Regions from separate parts of the Homo sapiens genome. Here region 2 is linked to region 1. The links come from fine-mapping of genetic effects on gene expression. A gene starts in region 1. The other region holds a variant in brackets. All regions are shown on one strand. Distances are between the middles of the regions.

What was found.
Region 2: its variant is fine-mapped to the expression of PRLR in whole blood (TOPMed, PIP above 0.99).

Annotation. Positions count from the first base shown.
Region 1 is chr5:35,225,572-35,235,451 of GRCh38, reverse strand. It overlaps PRLR (prolactin receptor), which reads left to right and starts at 4,965. Exons shown (of 10, transcript NM_000949.7): 1 at 4,965-5,184.
Region 2 is chr5:35,472,091-35,482,210 of GRCh38, reverse strand. No RefSeq gene overlaps it. Among named protein-coding and RNA genes, the nearest start is that of SPEF2, 140 kb to the left of the region's middle. The variant C/A (reference allele first, on the strand shown) is at 5,843.

The DNA.
Region 1 (9,880 bases):
AGATTGAACAGCCACAACATAAGAGAAAAAGTCAAAATATAATAAGCACATGAACTCAACCTTGAAGGCAATCAGAACACTGTGAATTAGAACAACAATGAGCTATCATATTTTGCTTATCAGACTAGCAAGATAAGATTGATAAAGTCCAGTGCTAGCAAAAATGTGAGTAAACATCCTTGGTAAGAGTGGACACTGAAACATTTGTGGATAAAAATTGGAGGTATATATGAAAATTTAAAATGTTCCTACCCTGTGGCTCAGTAATCTCATTTCTAGGGCTTTCTCCAACAACATATTTGGAGAGCAATTTGGTAGCTATCAAAATTTTAATGTTCATTCTCTTTGAGCCAACCAAGTCATTTATTTTTTATTTTATTTATTTATTTATTTATCTATTTATTTTTTTGAGACACAGTCTCAATCTGTTGCCCATGCTGGAGTGCCATGGCACTATCTCGGCTCCCTGCAACCTCTGCCTCCCAGGTTCAAGCGATCCTCTGGCCTCAGCCTCCCTAGCAGCTGGGACTACAGGCGTGCACCACCACTCCTGGCTAATTTTTGTATTTTTAGTAGAGAGAGGGTTTCACCATGTTGGGCAAGCTGGTGTGGAACTCCTGACCTCAGGTGATCTGCCTGCCTTGGCCTTCCAAAGTGTTGGGATTACAGGCAGACGCGAGCCAACCTGCCTGCCAATCAGGCCATTCTAAGTATCTATCCTAAAGTCCATGCAAAGACAATCCTAGCAGCACTTCTTAAAATAAAAAGCTGGAATTACTAAAGACCTAACAATGGAAGAATGGTAGAATATATTACAAACTATGTAACCATTAAAAAAAAATGGAGTAAATCTATACATAGTTACCTGGAATATGTGATTTCATTAAGTTTAAAAAAGAAAAGTCACAGAAATTATTGCATTTTGAATTTTTAAAATATTTGCATGTGCATACAGAGACATGACTATATACACATGTAAAAAAGGAGGCAACCACCAATACGTCAATGGTGGTTACCTCTGAGACAGGATTAGATGAAGGAAGGAGGATGTGTGATTTGGAAGTACTATATTTTACTGTATAGATAAAGATGTAGATTTCTTTTTAACAGTGCTAGGATTTGGGGTAGTTTTTTAATCTTTGGATATTTTTAGCAGTTTTCTATTTTTTTTCTAAAGAAAGAAACATAGTTCTCCCACATATGGACATGCCATTCTTCTGAGGATGCTTAAGTTGACCCCAGGAGGAGCCCTAGCTGCTGTTCCCCATTAGAGGCCCCTTTTCAGCAGGAAGTAGCCAGAAAGAGTCCTTGCCCAAAACCCCCTAACAGCAGTTAGTGTGATATCGCCACAGGGAGGAATGTGGCATGAGTTATCAAGAAATTATTTTAGGCAGATAGAGAGTAAAAGGGGTCCTTGGGAAGTTTTCATTTTTTAAAGTATCTCCAGAAAAGTTTCTTGTAAAACCCCGGCTTTTAGAGCCAGGCGGGCAACCTTTGATATGCAAACCTAGGCCATTAGAAACTGGGTTCACCCAAACATGCCGATTCCAGGGACCTTCTTGCCCTTGCCCCACATGTTCCTGGCAACATGGCCGCCCCCACATATCCCTATTTGTGTAGAACATCATGGCGCCCCGCATTTGCATATTAAAAGGCTAGAGTGGGAGGGCCAGCTCTTTCATGGGCTACGTGAATTACGTGCCTAGTCAAACCAATCCCCTGAGCCCTAGGCAAATCAAACACCGCCTCCTCCAGCCTCTGCTTATATACCTGGCTGGTATCCGCAGCAAGTGGGGACTTACTCTTTTGGCTTTGGAGCGCCCCCCTCCCTCTGTCTCTGTACAGGGAAGCTTCTTCTTTCTTCCTTCTCCCTTTCCTTCTTGACCCTTCTTGCCTATTAACCTCTCCACTCCTTAAAACCAAAAAAAAAAAAAAAAAAAAAGAAATGTGGTTCTCAAAGAAGACAAATGAAGTAGCAATGATAAAACTCCTTCCCTATTTGAGAAGGAGGAGAGAGAAAAGGAGCCACGGCAGAAACCAACAGAGGAATGCCACAGACAGAGGGGAGGCTCCCGCCAGAGGATGGCAGAGGCCTGGAAGCCAAGGCGTGAGAACTTCAAGAGGAGGAAGTGAACCGAAGCCCAGTGCTGCAGAGAGGCCTGGAGGGCCCTCCCAGAGAGCAGCCAGTGAGTGGTAGTGATGAAAGCCAGGTGCAAAGAATTCAAGGGAGCCATTTTCCACCCTGCCTGTGCATTTTTGTAAAAACAGAGAAGTCAGAGCCCCATTCTAAACCTCCTGCATTAGAAGCTCTGCAAGTGACACCCAGACACAGTACATTTTAAACACTCAGGTGATTCTTGTTCACAGCCAAGGTTGAGAACCAGTGAGTTAAGGCACTGAGAGGGAAGTAAGTAAGGAAAGCTGGTGTGCGTAAGTCATTCTTTCACTAAGATTGGCAGGTAAAGAAATGAGTGAATTAAACTGTAAAGCCATCAAAAGGGTCAAAGAAGATGTAGAAGTTGTAGGTTGAGATAAAGAAGCCTATGGGGCAGAAAAGATTAAATATGCAAGAAAGGTAGAGGAAAGGGGAAGGAAAGAAAGGAACTTGATGTTTCTAGACTTTGTTAGATGGCACACATTTTACATATGCCATCACCATTATTATTCATTTGACTGGATTTTTGAGGCACATGCTACTGTGTCCAATTTACAGTGAGAAACCAAGAATAGCAAGGACCTAACCCAGTGCCAGTGCTGGGCTCTTCCTCTGCATCAGGCTGAGAAGCAAGGTCTTGGAGGAAGTAAACGGATATGGAGTCCAGGACTCAGGTAGGGAGTCAGCTTGCAAAGGACGAACACGTCCGCTAAGACAGAGATGCAGAAATGAACTAGAGGAGGACATCAGTAAAGAAGCTGTGAAGCTGGAGCACATCAGTGCATAGAGAGAAGGAGATAGTCAAAGAACCACTGTGGGGCAGAAAAGGAAAATATAGTGGCTCACTGCGGATTTCATCATCTCAGGAAAGCTGGGGCAAGGTAACTCACTGACAATGAGTACCCGTGGCTTTGTGACAGTGCCTGTGTGCTACACAACAGAGCAGAAAGCCAGCCCTGCCCTTCTTACCAGTGAGGTATGGATTAGCCACGCAACGACCAGTCTGTAAGCCAGGAGTACAGACGAGCCAAGCTGCCTGCAGCTGAGTGGGAACCACAAGGAGGAAAAGCCAAGTCCCTGCCTTCTAAGAGCTGACAGTCTGGAGTTACCCAGAGTGATCTTCTATTTCACTAACTGTTAAAATAGTCTGATTAGAACAACTATTGTAGAATTGAGTGACCCTTTGCTTTGCAAAGGTCATATAGAAATATTCTGCCACTGAGGATCTCATGTCGCCCAGTGGTTCTGAAAATAAATAGAAGTTGCGTACCTTCATGGACACCCATGAATGAAAGTAAATATACCCTAATCATCACAGGAAGCATGTGCGGTCTGCACGTGAAAGATGCATCTCCCATCAGCTAACAGAACCAGGTGGAGTCTATGTTTTAATAAGGACGTGTTATTGATCAGGAAGTATTAGGTTATTATGCCTAGGTAGTTGCTTCTGGGATTCCAGTCCAAAAGGATCACCAAAGCATCATGGGATTTTCAATGGCTTCCTGTGGCTTGGCAAATGCTCACTGCTAACTGTGATTTCCCAGTTATCCAGAGTAGCAGTCAAATCAAAGGGGAAAGCCTCATGTTTCAATAACTTAAAACAAAACAAAAAAAAAAACGGCCAGGCGCAGTGGCTCACGCCTGTAATCCCAGCACTTCAGGAGGCCAAGGTGGGTGGATCATGAGGTCAGGAAATCAAGACCATCCTGGCTAACAGGGTGAAACCTCATCTCTACTAAAAATACAAAAAACTAGCCGGACATGGTGGCACGCGCCTGTAGTCCCACCTACTCGGGAGGCTGAAGCAGGACAATTGCTTGAATCCAGGAGGCAGAGGTTCCAGTGAGCCGAGATGGGGTCACTGCAATCCAGCCTGAGCGACAGAGCGAGACTCTGTCTCAAAAAAACAAACAAAAACAAACAAAAAAAAAAACTCAGTAACCTTGGTTTAAAGTATTTCCTTGGTGGCCCTCTGGGTTGTGTAACAATCGGATGCATTAATTATTATGGCATCAAATGACACCAGCAACATACATAGTCAGAAATAACTATTTGATTCAGGCAGGTGCTATTATTTGTTTCAGCACTGTTAAATGTGGGGTTTTTGTTTTTGCAAGAGAAAAGGCGGTTGTGTGTGGTTTCAAGAAGAAGAAAAGTCAGAACAACATGCAGCCCATTAGAAAAGATAAATTCTTTATTTGTGGAAAACAACAGAAGTGGGGCTATTTAGGCACCGCCAATGTTTATTATATTCATATGGCAGAGAATAAACACAGCACACTAGAAGTTTGCGCTTTGGGTATTAAAAAAAAAAAAAAGCAAAACCTTCTTAGGTCACTGACTATCTTCTTTTGCTCCTTTCTATCTGACTCCTCAGGCAAGGTGCAATTCAAATCCCTGGAGAACCTCTCAAATATAGCTGCTGTTCAATGTTACTCAGAAATAAGGAAAGAAATTTGACACGGAGACACTCCACATCTTGGCTGCCTGGAAAAATATCATCTTTGAGGTCATTCAACTCACTAAGTCATTTTTATTATTGTTTTGTCTGTCTATTTTCTGGTACAGTCTCAATGAAAGATATGTGGCCCTAATCATGCAAAACCGATCTGGGGGGAATCAGTTGTTTCTTCAGGTCTTCGCAGGATTCCAGCTCCCCCAACTACCTCCGTCGCCTTCTAAAACTGGCAGGCTCTGGACGTTTTGCATGCTGAAGAAAATCACTGTTTTGCCTCCAGCAAGGAACATAAATGTTGCAACACTGACTCCTCCTCTCATGAAGAAAGAGTGAACAAGTGCACCGAGTTGAGCTTCTTCTCACAGAGCCACCGGGCTGGGGACCGGGGAGCGGAGGCTGAAATCCCCAGACGCCGGTTTTCTGGGCTGGGCTTTCTGCCTTACTCACTCCTTCTCCCTCTTTCTGGATTTTACCGACCGTTCGCGAAACAGCTTTCCACACAATGGAGCTTCATGTCCTCGTGCAGGAAGTACTCATCGACTGATGTGGCAGACTTTGCTCCCTGGCAAAAGTGAGTACCCATGGCGAGCTGAGGCCGCCTCCGACGGCGCGCGGCAGGGGCTGCGCGGGCGGCCGCTCTCCGGGATGCGGGTTCGAGGCCCGCGTGCTGAAGGGGAGAGCGGGGCCACCGGCGCGGGCTCCTGGAGAGAACGCCAGCCAGGAGCCAGAGTCGGCAGCCGGCGGGGAAGCCCGGGATCCGCCCGCCTCCCGCCCGGATGTCCCTTCTCAGAGGGGCTAAAAAATACTCTTAAGGTGCTTTGCCTCCACCACTGCCCCCAACCCCAGCTTTTACAAACTGCACTCGGCTCGCATTCGCCTTTGTCAAAGGCATCTTCACCTGTATCCTTGAGCATGAGTTTCGGCGTTGATTGTGGGATTCTCAGAATGCAAATTATTTGCGTCAAAATAAAAAGAAAAGAAAAAAAGAGCGGGGAGGGGGAAGGGGCGCAGACAGGTGATGTGATGAAAGCCGGACTCGAGACTCTCCCATCAGCAGCAGCCGCCGCCGCAGCAGCCTCGCGGGCATCCGGCGGGGAAAGTTTAGGGTTAGCAATGCTGACCTGAAAGGTGTTGCTCCTCCCAAAAGTCAGCGGGGGTAGGGGCAGATGAGCAGCCTCCGGGCCAGAAGCCGGAGCTGGACGGAGGCACCTAGGCAGAGGAATTGCAGCCCGGGAGGAAGCTGGAAGGAGAGCCCGCTGGAGAAGGGAGGAGGGAAGGGAAGAGGAGTTGGTTAAAGTCAGGCAAACTCAGGTAACTGGAGGGCCGGCCCGAGTGCTACGGCAGGGGAAGGCAAGGGCTGGAGTTCTGGCTCTTTGAGTAGAAAACTATCCTTTTAGTGACCTCTACCTGTATCCTGGGGAAGCAACCCACACTGCCCTGAAAACAAGCAACGTAGGGGATTCTATGACTGGACTTGAAAATGGTTGCAAAACATTATTATTAGTCTGGAGGGATCACTTTGTCTTCATTTGTCAAGTTGACCGGGCAAGATTTCCCACCTGAAATCGTGCTTCACTTGACCAGGGAAGTGCTGCTAATCCCAATCCTGACCATCAGCTGTGCAAACTTGGGCAAGATACTTACCCTCTCTGGGCTTCGATTTTTTTTCTGCAAAGTTTAGGGAATTAATTAATTATATATATATATTATAGAAATATATATAATATATATATAAATGTTTAATGAGGTGGAAGTGCTGAATAGTGCAAGAGAGGAGCAGATGAAAATATTAATTTCAGTGGTTCTTAAAAATTAGGGGTGATAGGTCCTTTTGAGAATTAGCTGTGAGTCCTCTTCCTGGGGCAAAATGCATATGGCATGTACATAAAATTTTACATGCAATCCCTGAGGGTTTGTGGATACTCCCTGAAAGCCATGCCTGAATCCCAGGTGACAATCCCTTATTCCTCCTCCTGTATCAAGACCACCCAGCCAACTCCTTGCTGCTGGTTGGGCTGACTGTGGGAGTAATCCACAGCCTTCTTGGGGGTCTGGAGTCAGCCACGCTGCTGAAGGAGACAGCTCCCCTGTCATGGGTGAGCTCCCCACATGCTCTCTCCAGAGCTCTACCAGCCTCTGACTCCAGGGGACCCCTCCTCACAACCCTTTTTAATGACTCTCCTAAGGCGACAGTCCTTACCCCTAGAATTTTCAGTCCCACCAACCCTGGAGAGCCATCTAAAGAGGATCGCTGTCTGAATCAGAGTGCTCTTCAGGTCACCTAGCTGGATGGCAGGGAGGCCAAGGCTTTGTTTGGAAATGAAGCAGTCTTTGCTCCCTGAGGCATAGTATGAGTAGGCAGCCATATTCTTTTGAACCTCTGTACTTTGCCTTTAGAGGACTAAGGACTCACATCTCTGGGGACCCTGGGTGTTCCACTAGCAGTGCCAGCAAGGCACATCAGAAAACACACAGGGCTTTGGAGCTCAACAGACTGGGCTTCAGATCTTGACTCCCACACTGAGCAAGCCTCTGAGTTTTCCTGAGCTTCACTTTTCCTGTCAGCACAATGAAAATAATGCTGCTTTTTTTTTTTTTTTTTTTTTGCATGGTTGTTGGGAGAATGGAAATACTATGAATCATGCCTAGCCCATAGTCAATGATAAACTTTTTCTTAATATTAATGTGGCACCATAAATAAGTGTTCAATAGTCTCATGCTTTTAAGAACAGCTTACTCTCTCTCTCCTATGGGGCTTACATTAGTAGAAGAATGAGTAAAATTAGTTCTGGTCTAGTTATGCACAAAAAGGAGTGGTGGCCTCAGAATACAGAGTCAGACTGGCTGTTCGAATTGTGCAGTGTCAAGGAGAGCACTATGTATTGCCGGCAAGTAAAGTATGTCCAGACCGGCGTGGATACTTGACCTGTCTCTCAGTTCTCTTTTGACCCATAATCTTGAGTACAAAACAGCTAGTGCTGTGCCTGCAGCTAAAAACAGCCAGGCATGGAAAGAAGTGTTGTGGCTGGGTCCATCTTCAGAAACTGTAGAGAGAAATATCTCCATTGTCATCTTTCACAGTTTGGCACAGATGTAGCCAACTCAGCATGTACTCTCTCTCCATGGGGTCCTGGTGCCTCCATTGCAAGTGGTCAGATGATGTAGCAATGAAAGAAGGAAACATCGGAAACTTAAAAGGAAATTGGATATCCACAGAGTAGCCAAAGATCTATCAGTATACTTTGGTGAGGTATTCCTGCATGCAAAGATAGCAATATTCATGCCTACTATTTACTGAGCCTTTAAGATGTGCTAAGCACTTTCACACATTGCCTCAATTAATTCTCATAGCAAGATTGCAGAGTATGAGTTATCATTTAAAGCTTTACCAGTAAAGAAACTGAAACATGGAAATGTACATACACCCCCCAACCCCACACCCCACATCCGCCTAGCTCAGGAAAGGCAGAACCAGGATCCAAGCCCAGGTCTGTCTGACTTTGGCACCCACTCTTTTTCCACTACCCAGTGCTCCCAAGCTCCCCAATATCAGGCACTTGCATCAGCCAACCGGATTAAGATTCTTCTAAAAGGCAGGAATAGCCAAATCTAGTGGGTGCTTTTAAGTGGTGTGAACATGTGCTTGGCTTGTGATACATATTAACGGGTAGCAACAACAAGATCACCTATGGGAGGATAATATTCCTGACCCTTCCCAAGCCCAGCCATTAGACTCAAGATTGGCAATATCCAACATTAGCAGGTGAGGCTGGCGCTCTGTCACTGACTTCCTTGGTAATCCTTTTAGTTAAACAGAGCTCTGGAATGTTCATTCTCTACCACCTTTAGAATCAGAACACCACTTACCTTTACCTCCCTGTGCTGAGCACGTTTTCATTCATTTATTCGACAAGCATTTGCTGAGCTCTGTTTTGTGCTGGGCACTTGATGACACAGTGGGGAATGAGACACACAGGATCCCAGCCCTTGTGGAGCTTCTATGCCAGAGAGAGTGACAGAAAACAGTCGGGTGAACAAATACATAAATAAAATCATTTCAGATACTGATAAATGCTATGAAGAAAATAGAGGCTGAAGGCTACAGAGGGACAGGGCGTGGGAGCAACTTTCAACAGGGAAGTCAGAGAAGACTGCCATACAAAGGATACCCTTGAACTTAAACCCGCATTTTCAAAAAGGGAGCCAGCCCTGTGAAAGTCTAGGGAAAGGGCTACCTTAGCAGAACTCTCAAGAGAAAGTTCTTAAATTGGAGTAAATGAAGCAGTAAAGCTTAAAGTCTGAAGATGGGCCCTTTAGAAGTTGACTTGTATATAGGGGGAATTATTATTTGAATGCCTACTGTACTATTCTAAGCTGTGCTGTATACTCTGTTTATCTTCCCAATGATCTGGTGAGTTAGCTATTTTTGTTTTTATTTTACAGTTGAAGAAACCAAGAGTCATCAAGGTTAAGGAGCTAGTCCAAGGTTATGGAGCTAGTCCAAGGTTATGAAGCTGGTATTTGAATCCCTTAGTCTATTTCACTCCAAAGCCCACAACTACTTGCTAACACAGCATGTGGGCTTTGAGATAATGTCTTTTGGAGAAAGTAAGGAAGCCGATAGAAGGAGAATATCAAAAGTAAATTAAGTAGCTGAATGCTGACAACGATTTGTATTTGATGTCCCAAATTCCAGTTAGTGCACCTACAACTGAACTGTCCAATACAGTAGCCACTAGCCACATGTGCCTATTGAGCACTTGAAATGTGGCTATTTCATATTGAGATGTACTGTAAATGTACAACGCACCCCAGATTTTTAAGACCTAGTATTCCCCCCAAAAAGTAAACTGTCTTGGCCAGGTGTGGTGGCTCATGCCTGTAATCCAAGCACTTTAGGAGGCCGAGGCGGGTGGATTGCCTGAGCTCAGGAATTCGAGACCAGCCTGGGGAACACGGTGAAACCCCGTCTCTATTAAAAATGCAAAAATTAGGCAGGCATGGTGGTGGGTGCCTGTAATCCCAGCTACTTGGGAGGCTGAGGCAGGAAAGTCTCTTGAACCCGGGAGGCGGAGGTTGCAGTGAGCCAAGATTGCGCCATTGCACTCCAGCCTGGGTGAAAGAGTGAGACTCCGTCTCAAACAAAAACAAAAACAAAAGTAAACTGTCTCAATTTTTATATTGATTGTGTGTTGAAATGATAATATTTTAGGTATACTAGTTTAAATAAAATATATTAAAATTAATTTAACCTTTTTCCTTTAATG
Region 2 (10,120 bases), 250 kb before region 1:
AAAATCTTAACAAAAATAATAAACAGCAAGGAAAGGCCAATCTTCTGATAAGAAAACACTTCATCAGTATAAAACATAGAAACAGACATTGCTCCTAGACTCCTGGAGGCTGTAACAAAGGTGGCAGTTCACTGTGAGAAAGTTTACATTTAGTAGTTCTCCCAGTTGAATGTACTCAGGAAAATATAATACCACCTGAAATGCTTGTAAGTGTTGCTAATTTCTTTCTTCTTCTTCTTCTTCCTCTTCTTCTTTTTTTTTTTTTTTTTTGAGATGGAGTCTCTCTCTGCCACCCAGGCTGGAGTGCAATGGCATGATCACTACAACCTCTGCCTCCTGGGTTCAAGCGATTCTCCTGCCTCAGCTTCTTGAGTAGCTGGGATTACAGGTGTGGGCCACCATGCCTGGCTCATTTTTGTATTATTAGTAAGGACGGGGTTTCACCATGTTGGCCAGGCTGGTCTTAAACTCCCGACCTCAGGTAATCCACCTGCCTCAGCCTCCCAAAGTGATGGGATTACAGGCATGAGCCACCACAATGTTGCTAATTTCCAGGCCCAACCCCTAAAAACTCTGATTCAGTCATCCTGGAGTGCAATCCAAGAATCTGCACCCCACAAGATTTCCAGGAAACCAGGTTTAGTCTCATGCTTTGAGGAAAGGACATTGTGATGAGAAACACAGAAAGCTCTTTTAACATGTATATGCTCACAGTATTGAAACAAGGAGAAAGATAAATGTAGTGTCTTTCCTGCACAAGAAACAAAAGGATTATAAATCATGCTGCTATAAAGACACATGCACATGTATGTTTATTGCGGCACTATTCACAATAGCAAAGACTTGGAACCAACCCAAATGTCCAACAATGATAGACTGGGTTAAGAAAATGTGGCACATATACACCATGGAATACTATGCAGCCATAAAAAATAATGAGTTCATGTCCTTTGTAGGGACATGGATGAAGCTGGAAACCATCATTCTCAGCAAACTGTCGCAAGGACAAAAAACCAAACACCGCATGTTCTTACTCATAGGTGGGAATTGAATAATGAGAACATATGGACACAGGAAGGGGAACATCACACTCTGGGGCCTGTTGTGGGGTGGGGGGAGGGGGGAGGGATAGCATTAGGAGATATACCTAATGCTAAATGACGAGTTAATGGGTGCAGCACACCAACATGGCACATGTATACATATGTAACTAACCTGCACATTGTGCACAAGTACCCTAAAACTTAAAGCATAAAAAAAAGAAAGAAAAAGGAAACAAACATTAAAAAAGACAAAAACAAATTTTTATAATAAATTTAATTTTTTTGCCTTCAGTTCTCAAGGGAAAAAGAAGCAGCATCACCACACACTCCGCTCCCAGCCTTTTACTTTACTCATTTAAACTTAAAATACAAAACTTAGTCTTGAGCAAGTGTGGTTAAAAATCTAAGAGAAACAACAAAAATAGAGAAGAATCCAACATATTCAGTTACTATTTCTTCTAAAGAAGGAGAATGGAGCATCTAATATTTCTTATGCATGAAATCAAAGACATATTGAGGCACATAGCAGAAATGCTTTAATGACCTAGAGAAGGGTTGTAAAAACCTTGGCTTATTTGATTCCTCAAGTTGCACACCACCAGAAGACCATGGAGTAAGTAGTACTGAATTAAAATTTAAGCACAGAAAACTAGGTCCCAAACTATCAGAAAATGATTCCCAATTCTAAATGTTCAACCACATCTATCTTAAAACATTTATAATATTTTTTTCAAATTCTCTCATAACATTCCAAATGACTAGTTTTCTCTGCTATATTTTCTCAACTTTCAAATTAAAATTCTTTGCTTTAAAGTTAAAAAAAAAAAAAAGAAACATAACCATCCCTCCTCCAGATTTTCTAGTAGATTCTATAGTGAAGGTGAAATTAAAGGAACCATTTAAGTAAACAAGAGGAATGTATTTTTGGAAAACTGTCTCATGAAGAGTGCAAAGAAAGTATTTGAATTTGCTTTGAAACATAGAAAGAAACATTTAAAGGAAAGTAGGCCTTGTTGGCATGGTGGAAGAATCTGAAATAGCCAAGAGCAAGGCCAGCGTAAACCTTCCAAGGGCCATTCATTCTAATAATCGTGTCTTCTTTGGACATATAGCTTACTCCCATTTAATCTAGGAAGATATCTGAATTAGGCCTTTGCCTATAGAACTGTGATTCTCATTACCAGCTACACATTAGAGTTATCTGGGAGCTTTAATAAATACAAATGTCTGAATCTCACTGACTGGATAGTGGGTTTTAATTGGTCTGAAGTATGATCTGATTACCAGAATTGCTGAAAGCATTTCAGAGATTTTTAATGTGCAGGTAGATTAATAACCACTGCTCTAGTTAACTTAGCAAGTACTGCAGCAGTATAAAATTAACCTAAGATTGACAGTAGAGTAATTCACAATGCTTTGCATTTGCAGTTCATCATTAGCTAAAAACTCAATATTTTCAGTGTTTCCCAGGCCCTTAAATAAACAAAGCTCTTATTTTGAGGATTTGTCACCACACTGTTAAGAGAGTCTTTTTTTTTTTTTCTTAAGTGTCACTTTTGTAATCAGCCCTGTGTACATTCATTGTTCAGGGACAACTGCCTGATCTTTCACAGAGAAGCTTTTACTTCTGAAATTCCCAGATTCTTTCCCCAAAGTCCCTGTTCTCTGCATAGAACTTCCCTCCCCGCTCTAGCCTCGATAATATACCCTATGAGATCGGCACAAACAAGACATTCTGAGTCTTGACAGAAGGACAGAATGTGAGAGGAGAATAAAAGTTTCCTTTGTGTAGAGCATTGGTTGAACTTGCTGGTGTTGGTGAAGGAATTCAGCTTCCTGGTTGCATAGTATCTGTGTAGTTTCATTTTCATTTTCACTTTTCCCTTGTTCATTCAACAAATATTTGAATCATTACCATATGCTACTCACTTTGCTGAGCGTTAAGGATACAGTAATGAATAGGAAAGAAAGGAGTGATGAATAGGAAAGAAAGAATAGAACTGAAAGGAGGGTGGTGGAGAGTCCTTTCTCCTCAAATTTAATTTTAATAGAATAGATTTAAACACGCAGAGATTGTATAAAGCTGACAGTAGCCATCAAGTATGGCTATGAAGTGGGTTGTACCTCTGTATGGCTCTTTCTAAAACTTTGGCAGGGACCACTCAGTACTTGAGCTTTTGGTGCTAAGGTACTTCTAAGCCATGAACTTAAGCCTGCCTCTATTTGGAGGCTTTTTTTTTTCCTAAAACATGAAATTGTTTCCTAAAGAAATGAATCAAAATCCAAGCTGATTTTGCAAATAAGAAATCTTAGAAGAAAGGGATTTTGTCAGCCACTAATATAAAATCATCTGGGAATACAAAATTTTTACTGAACTAGAATCTCAGTGGCTGACAGGGGAACCTGCATTTTTAACATGGACCCCAGGACTAAAGTATGATAACTGTCACCTCAGAGAATCTGGTCTGTCTCTCATTGACATTTTTCTTTTATCAATCCCAATCAGTGAGTCCTTATGGATATTTTTCCAACTTGATTATCAAGTCAATAGGTTTCCACAAGGATTTTGAATAAGGCTATCTTCTTAAACTAGTATTAATAAATCCCGTATATGATATATGGGACGCCATCTGGTGAAGTAACAAAGGAACTTGTCTATAAATGTTTGAACTGAGGAGAGGGGAACACTCAAGGTCAGCCATCCAAAGCAAGTGAGGAGCAATTCAGGTGGGCAAGACTAGAATATGTTAGTAATCAAAACATTGAAACCTACTCAATGACATTGTAGTAGGGCTGAGAAAAGCCTGTGAACAGGTCTATTTATGCCTTCTCTCTAGTTTTAGACTTTATGTTGTCTAAAACAAACAAACAAAAAATCCTGTTATTGTCACTAAGCATTGACTGTCCAGGAGAGAAATAGAGAGAGAAAAAATAAATGTCTGATAAAAAGAGAAAGCCTTTTGTCTCTGAGTTAGAGAGGAGCCACCAGGCTTCATCATGAACTGGAGGAAGTCTTCTGAAGACTATCTCAAGACTTGGCTCAAGGTCCATAATCATTGCTCAGTTTTCTTACTGTAATCTGGAGTTCCCCTGAGATTTCAATACTAAGAGAGTGCACTGGCCAGAACATCTTTGCATCCCAGTGCCCTTAGTGTTTATTTTTCTCACTGTGAATTCATATGCTGGCATGTGGTTTATCCTTTTTTCTCTATTGAGCCTGGAGAGTATTGGTTGAGCCCCCAGCTCCATCAACCTCTCTAATTATGGTGTCAAAACAGAAAACAGAAACAGAGTTTCTTGACTTCAAACTTGAGCATTAAGACTCTGTGGGACTACACTTAGGTGAGCAGCTGGACTCATTCAATAACATGTTTAGGTTGTTTCTCAACAACCGTAACACATATGATAGACTTTTTAGAGCTCTTAGGAGACAAGCTTTTATTTTACAAAGAAGGAAACAGATTGAAAGAGGTGAAGTGGTGAGCTAAGGCCAAAAAGCAAGAACATGGATGGATAAGGACAGAAAACTTTTCAATCTAAGGGTAATGTTTCTTCTACAGCATGACAGCATCTCTCACAAACTGTGCTTGCCACAATGACTTTGTTTTCATCCACTTATATGTCCACTGAGCTTTTGATGACAGTATACCTTTGTTAGGATGCAAATAGATAAAATGACTTCATAATTATAGAAACTTTACAGTAATTTTGTCCAAGGCCCTATAGCTTCCAAAACAAATATGTATCAATATATATTGATATACTTCTTAAGCCTGGCATAGATTTCTTCTTTTCCTTTTAGTCACCTAGAAATGTCCCTATCTAAGCATATTAAAAATCAGATTGAAGACAAACAAAACTCCCTTGCTTGAAAATGTGATCTCCCTCCTTTTGAAAATAATAAAAACTGACAAAATATTTATGTTCTATTAAAAGACACAGTCAACCCTTAAACTTGGTTTTTTCCTTAAAAAACACATCACCAAGTACTAAAAGGCTAGTTCCTATGAAACTGTCTCCAGCTAGAAAGGGAGGTCAAGATGCCCCACAAATGTGATTTACTTCCTTAAGCATGTTTAGACAGATCTCTTGCACACAGAATTGCCTTTAAATAAATAGCCATATAAAATTAATTTTGTCTGTTTTGCCTCAAGTTTGTTGTGCTTGAGGTTTATTTGCCTGGTGTTTACAGGGCTGGGGTATAACAGAAAGCAGACCAGAAATCAACACATTTTATCTGGGCTCTCAATGCCATGTTTCAGAACAGTCACTGGCCTCCCACCAGACTGTTGATTGGATTCAGATTATGACCTTCCTATTCGTTCCATTTAAATTACCCTGAAGGTATGACCTCAACAGTGCTCTGAGACAGTGTTGGAATAAGCTTTGCAAACAGCCCAAGCTAGGAATTCAAAAAGCCCTCAGCAGTAGCCTAAGAAAATCTTTATTACAGAAAAACTTACAGATTTGATGTAAAACATGCTTATAATCACTTTGGGAATAGCGTTTGCATGATGTATTACAGCTTGTATGAACTGGAAAGAGAAAACCTCTTCTAAATGATTATCCAAAACAGTTTTAAACCAGGGGTATCTCTGAAACAGTAAGTTGGTATAAACAATTGTTAGGGATTTTAAAATGTAGACTGTTCTCCTTCATTTCACCTCTGATTTTCAGGTAGCTGCACAGCTCTCAGGCTAACATCTTTCTCTATATAGTTGATACTACAGTTTGTGTCTGTGTGTACCTGGCTCATGCATCTGCAGTGAAATTAATTGCCAGGGTCAGGACCACAGAAG[C/A]CAAAAGAGATTAATAGAAAAAGACATTAGTGCTTCAGAAGATAAAGGGCTTAGAATTCTACAAATATGACTCCCTCTGATTACAAAATGGTAACTTCCTACTTTTAGAACGATCAAAAAGACAGAACACAGAAACGTTAATAACAGTTGGCCTCATATTACCCAACATCCACATATGTTAGAAACTATCCATGTAATTAGAATTGAAATCTCTGAATTGCAACAGCACATCCTAACCAAAAATAGATGTGGCCAGAAGTCTACTAAGTGGGGACCACCCATCCTTCCAGGTTCTACATGAAACTGAGTGGGAGTTTGGCCCAGAAAAGGCAAAGTTCCCTTTTAAAATTGGGGGAAAAAGTAGTCTGTGAAAAATTAACAACTGTTACAGAAGTTTTAACTATTAAAAACAGAGATTGCATCTATAATACCCACATCTTGGTTTCTAATGCCATTCCCAGAAATGGAAACAAATAAACTGAAAAACAAGGATCCTTAGAGAAATGGCTGATCCAGGACCGGGATAGGAAATATACCATATGAACCTGGAACATCTCTTAGTACCTGAAAGTGAGGACATGCTCAACAAAAACCGAAACCCATTGATAGGAACATGTCAAAGGGGGAATGGGAACCAATGGAAAGAGCTCCCAATGGTCAAATTTGAAACAACTTGAGCAAACAAAATACATAAAGTAGTATTGGATTATAAACCAAAATGTAAAATAAATATTCATGAATCTGTACTTACATGAATATGAATCCCAAATAATTTATGTATTCTACTCTCAAGGAAGTGGATCATAACTCTCCACTCCATAAGTGTGTGCTGCATATAGTAACTCCCTTCTCAAGAGTGCATTATGGTAGCCAGGCGCGGTGGCTCATGCCTGTAATCCCAGCACTTTGGGAGGCCGAGGCAGGCGGATCAACTGAGGTCAGGAGTTTGAGACCAACCTGACCAACATGGAGAAATCCTGTCTCTACTAAAAATACAAAATTAGCCAGGCATGGTGGCACATGCCTATAATCCCAGCTACTAGGGAGGCTGAGGCAGGAGAATTGCTTGAACCCGGGAGGCGGAGGTTGCGGTGAGCCGAGATTATGCCATTGCACTCCAGCCTGGGCAACAAGAGTGAAACTCCGTCTCAAAAAAAAAAAAAAAAAAAAAAAGGTATTATGGAGAGGAGTGGGGGAGTACCTTTACAGTGGAGAAGCCCGACAACCATACCACGGCCAGGTGGCCATGGCTAACATCATCAGTGATAAGTCGTATTGATAGTATACATCTTTGATATGATGCAATGAGAATTACATTTTACCTCTATGGTCTTCCTCTGCCGAAACCCCACTCCTGAGAAAACAACAGACAAATTCTACAAAATACCTGGTCCATACTCCTTAAAATTTCAAGTCATCCAAAACAAACAAACAAAAGAGTCTAAGAAACTGTCACATCCAAGAGGAGCCAAAACGTAATATGGTATCCTATATGGGATCCTGGAACAGAAAAAAGAGTACACATACACACACGCACACACGCACCCCTCCTAAGCAAACCTGAATAAAGTATGGGACTTAGTTTATAATACTATATCAATATTGGTTCGTTGCTTGTGACAAATATACCATTTTAATGTGAAATGTTAATAATAGGGGAAGCTGGATGTGGGGTATATGAGGACCCTCTGCATTACCTTCATAACTTTTCTGAAAATCTAAAACTATTCTAAAATGAGAAGATGATCAAAACTAGCATTTAGTAAAAAGCAGAATAGAGTGGTAAGATAGGTGCACAATGGGTAAGGAAAAGAAGGAATAAAGGGATATAATCAGGTAATGTGCTTGAGTTTGTTGTGAAGTTATAGAAACCTGGGGAATATTTCTTAGGGACAATCCCTGTCCTGGGTGTGTGCAACACACTGATAGTCAACCTAAGGACATTTCAACCTGAGGACCATGAGGGCTCATGCATACATTTGCATGTTAGAAGGCAGGAAGAGATGAATGCCTGGAATAGAATGCCTAGGAGTTCTAAGAGGGAACAGTTGTGCTTTCTGATGTTAAGATTACAGGAAAAGGGCCAGGTGCGGTGGCTCACACCTGTAATCCCAGCACTTTGGGAGACCGAGGCGGGCGGATCACGAGGTCAGGAGATCGAGACCATCCTGGCTAACGCGGTGAAATCCTGTCTCTACTAAAAATACAAAAAATTAGCAGGGCGTTGTGGTGGGCACCTGTGGTCCCAGCTACTCAGGAGGCTGAGGCAGGAGAATGGCGTGAACCCAGGAGGTGGAGCTTGCAGTGAGCCAAGATCAGGCCATGGCACTCCAGCCTGTGCGGCAGAGCAAGACTCCATCTCAAAAAAAAAAAAAAAAAAAGATTACAGGAAAATGGTTTCTCTTCAACCCAGTTATGGAGGACTTTCAAGCCTCCAGTTCTCGTTTCTGCAGGCTTGCTCTATTCTAGGGCTGAGAGTCTAATTCCAGGAGAAAGCTTTTCAGGGATCCTTTTCATAATCAATAAACATCTGTTGAGCATCTGTTATGAAGCAGGAACTGGAAATACAGAAATGAACAGGCAGTGACTGTGCTTGCTCAGAAATAGGCAAGGGTGTTCTTTTGAATCCTCAGATTTCAATTGTCTGTGACAGAACACGGAGTTGCATTCAAGTTTTATCATCTGAGTAAGAGGATACCGTAGGGGGAGGCAGGGTTTTATGAGACCTAAATTACTATGAACACTTACTACACATGTAATACAATTTTTACCTCAAATATTCAAAAAAAAAAAAAAACAAAAGAAAGAAATGATCAGCATGAGGTCCTTCATGTCAGGAATCTCACTGAATAGTGGAGTGGGTCTGTAAGGCAGCATGAGAATTGCTAAAATAGAATTAAACATGGGCTGCTAAGGGGACATAGAAAAGAAGTATCTAGATTGTACTTGGGGTCAGTGAAGACTTGAGCTGAGTGTAGAAGGATAACTTAGAAATAGGTTAGGTGAAGGGCTGGGCCTTGAGGCAAGAGGGAGCAGCTGAACAAAGTTTGGAGGGATAAAACATGTCCCAGGTGGGTGCCGTGGCTCATGCCTGTAATCCCAACACTTTGGGAGGCCAAGGCAGGAGGATCACGAGGTCAGGAGATTGAGACCATCCTGGCTAACACAATGAAACTCTGTCTCTACTAAAAATTTTTTAAAAAATTAGCTTGGTGTGGTGGCACTTGCCTGTAATCCCAGCGACTCGGGAGGCTGAGGCAGGAGAATTGCTTCAACCCGGGAGGCGGAGGTTGCAGTGAGCTGAGATTGTGCCTTTGCACTCCAGCCTGGGTGACAGAGCGAGACTCCATCTCAACAACAACAACAACAACAACATGCCCCACCTGAAGAAGTGCAACGAATTCTGCACAGCTGGAGTGAAGGGTATCTGTGGGCAAGGGCAAGAGTTAAGGTCAAAGGTGGAGATAAGGTCAAAGGGTAAAGACTGGGCAGAACAATAAGGGCCTCAGAAGTGACCTAGGGACTTGAACTATTTCTAGAACATTATAATCATCCTTCTCACAGTCTCTTATATCCTATTTCCACGTCTCCACTGGTGCTTCACAGTAATGTACTGAATGAAGTCCTATAAGACAAATGGAGAGATGAACGTGAACTTGACTGATGTCAGAGGACAGACCACAGACTGATGTTTCACTGTCATTTTTATTGTACTATATAACTCAATTCTATCATAAAGATTACATTTTAAAGAAAATAAAAACTCAAGTGATGAATGTGTGAAATTTCCACCTTATGAAAATGATAAAACAATGTGTAGGGGGACTTCCTAAACCAGGCAAATTGTTCCATAGAACACTTTAAAAAATCCCTACCCTTAACTTCGGACATCCTCAGGATGAAGATCTGGCTATTCATGTAATCATAGATTTAATTTCTCCCACAGATTGTGCATATTAATTTCTATTAATTTCTCCCACAGATTGTGCATATTAATTTCTATTAATTTCTCCCACAGATTGTGTTTATTAATTTCTATTAATTTCTCCCACAGATTGTGCATATTCTGTGAGTGCCTTCAGGGTACAGAAAACTACTTTAACTCCAGCATTCCCTTAGTAACAACAGAAATGTTCTTAGAACTGATAATGTTCTGCTTAAGGAAGAGAAGTCTAAGGGGCGATGTTTGAAGAAGGACTCGTGACTGGAGTCTGTCATGGTTGGCCTGGAGAACACATAGCTCATGAGGGCTAAGCAGGAACACTGTTGGTCTAGTTT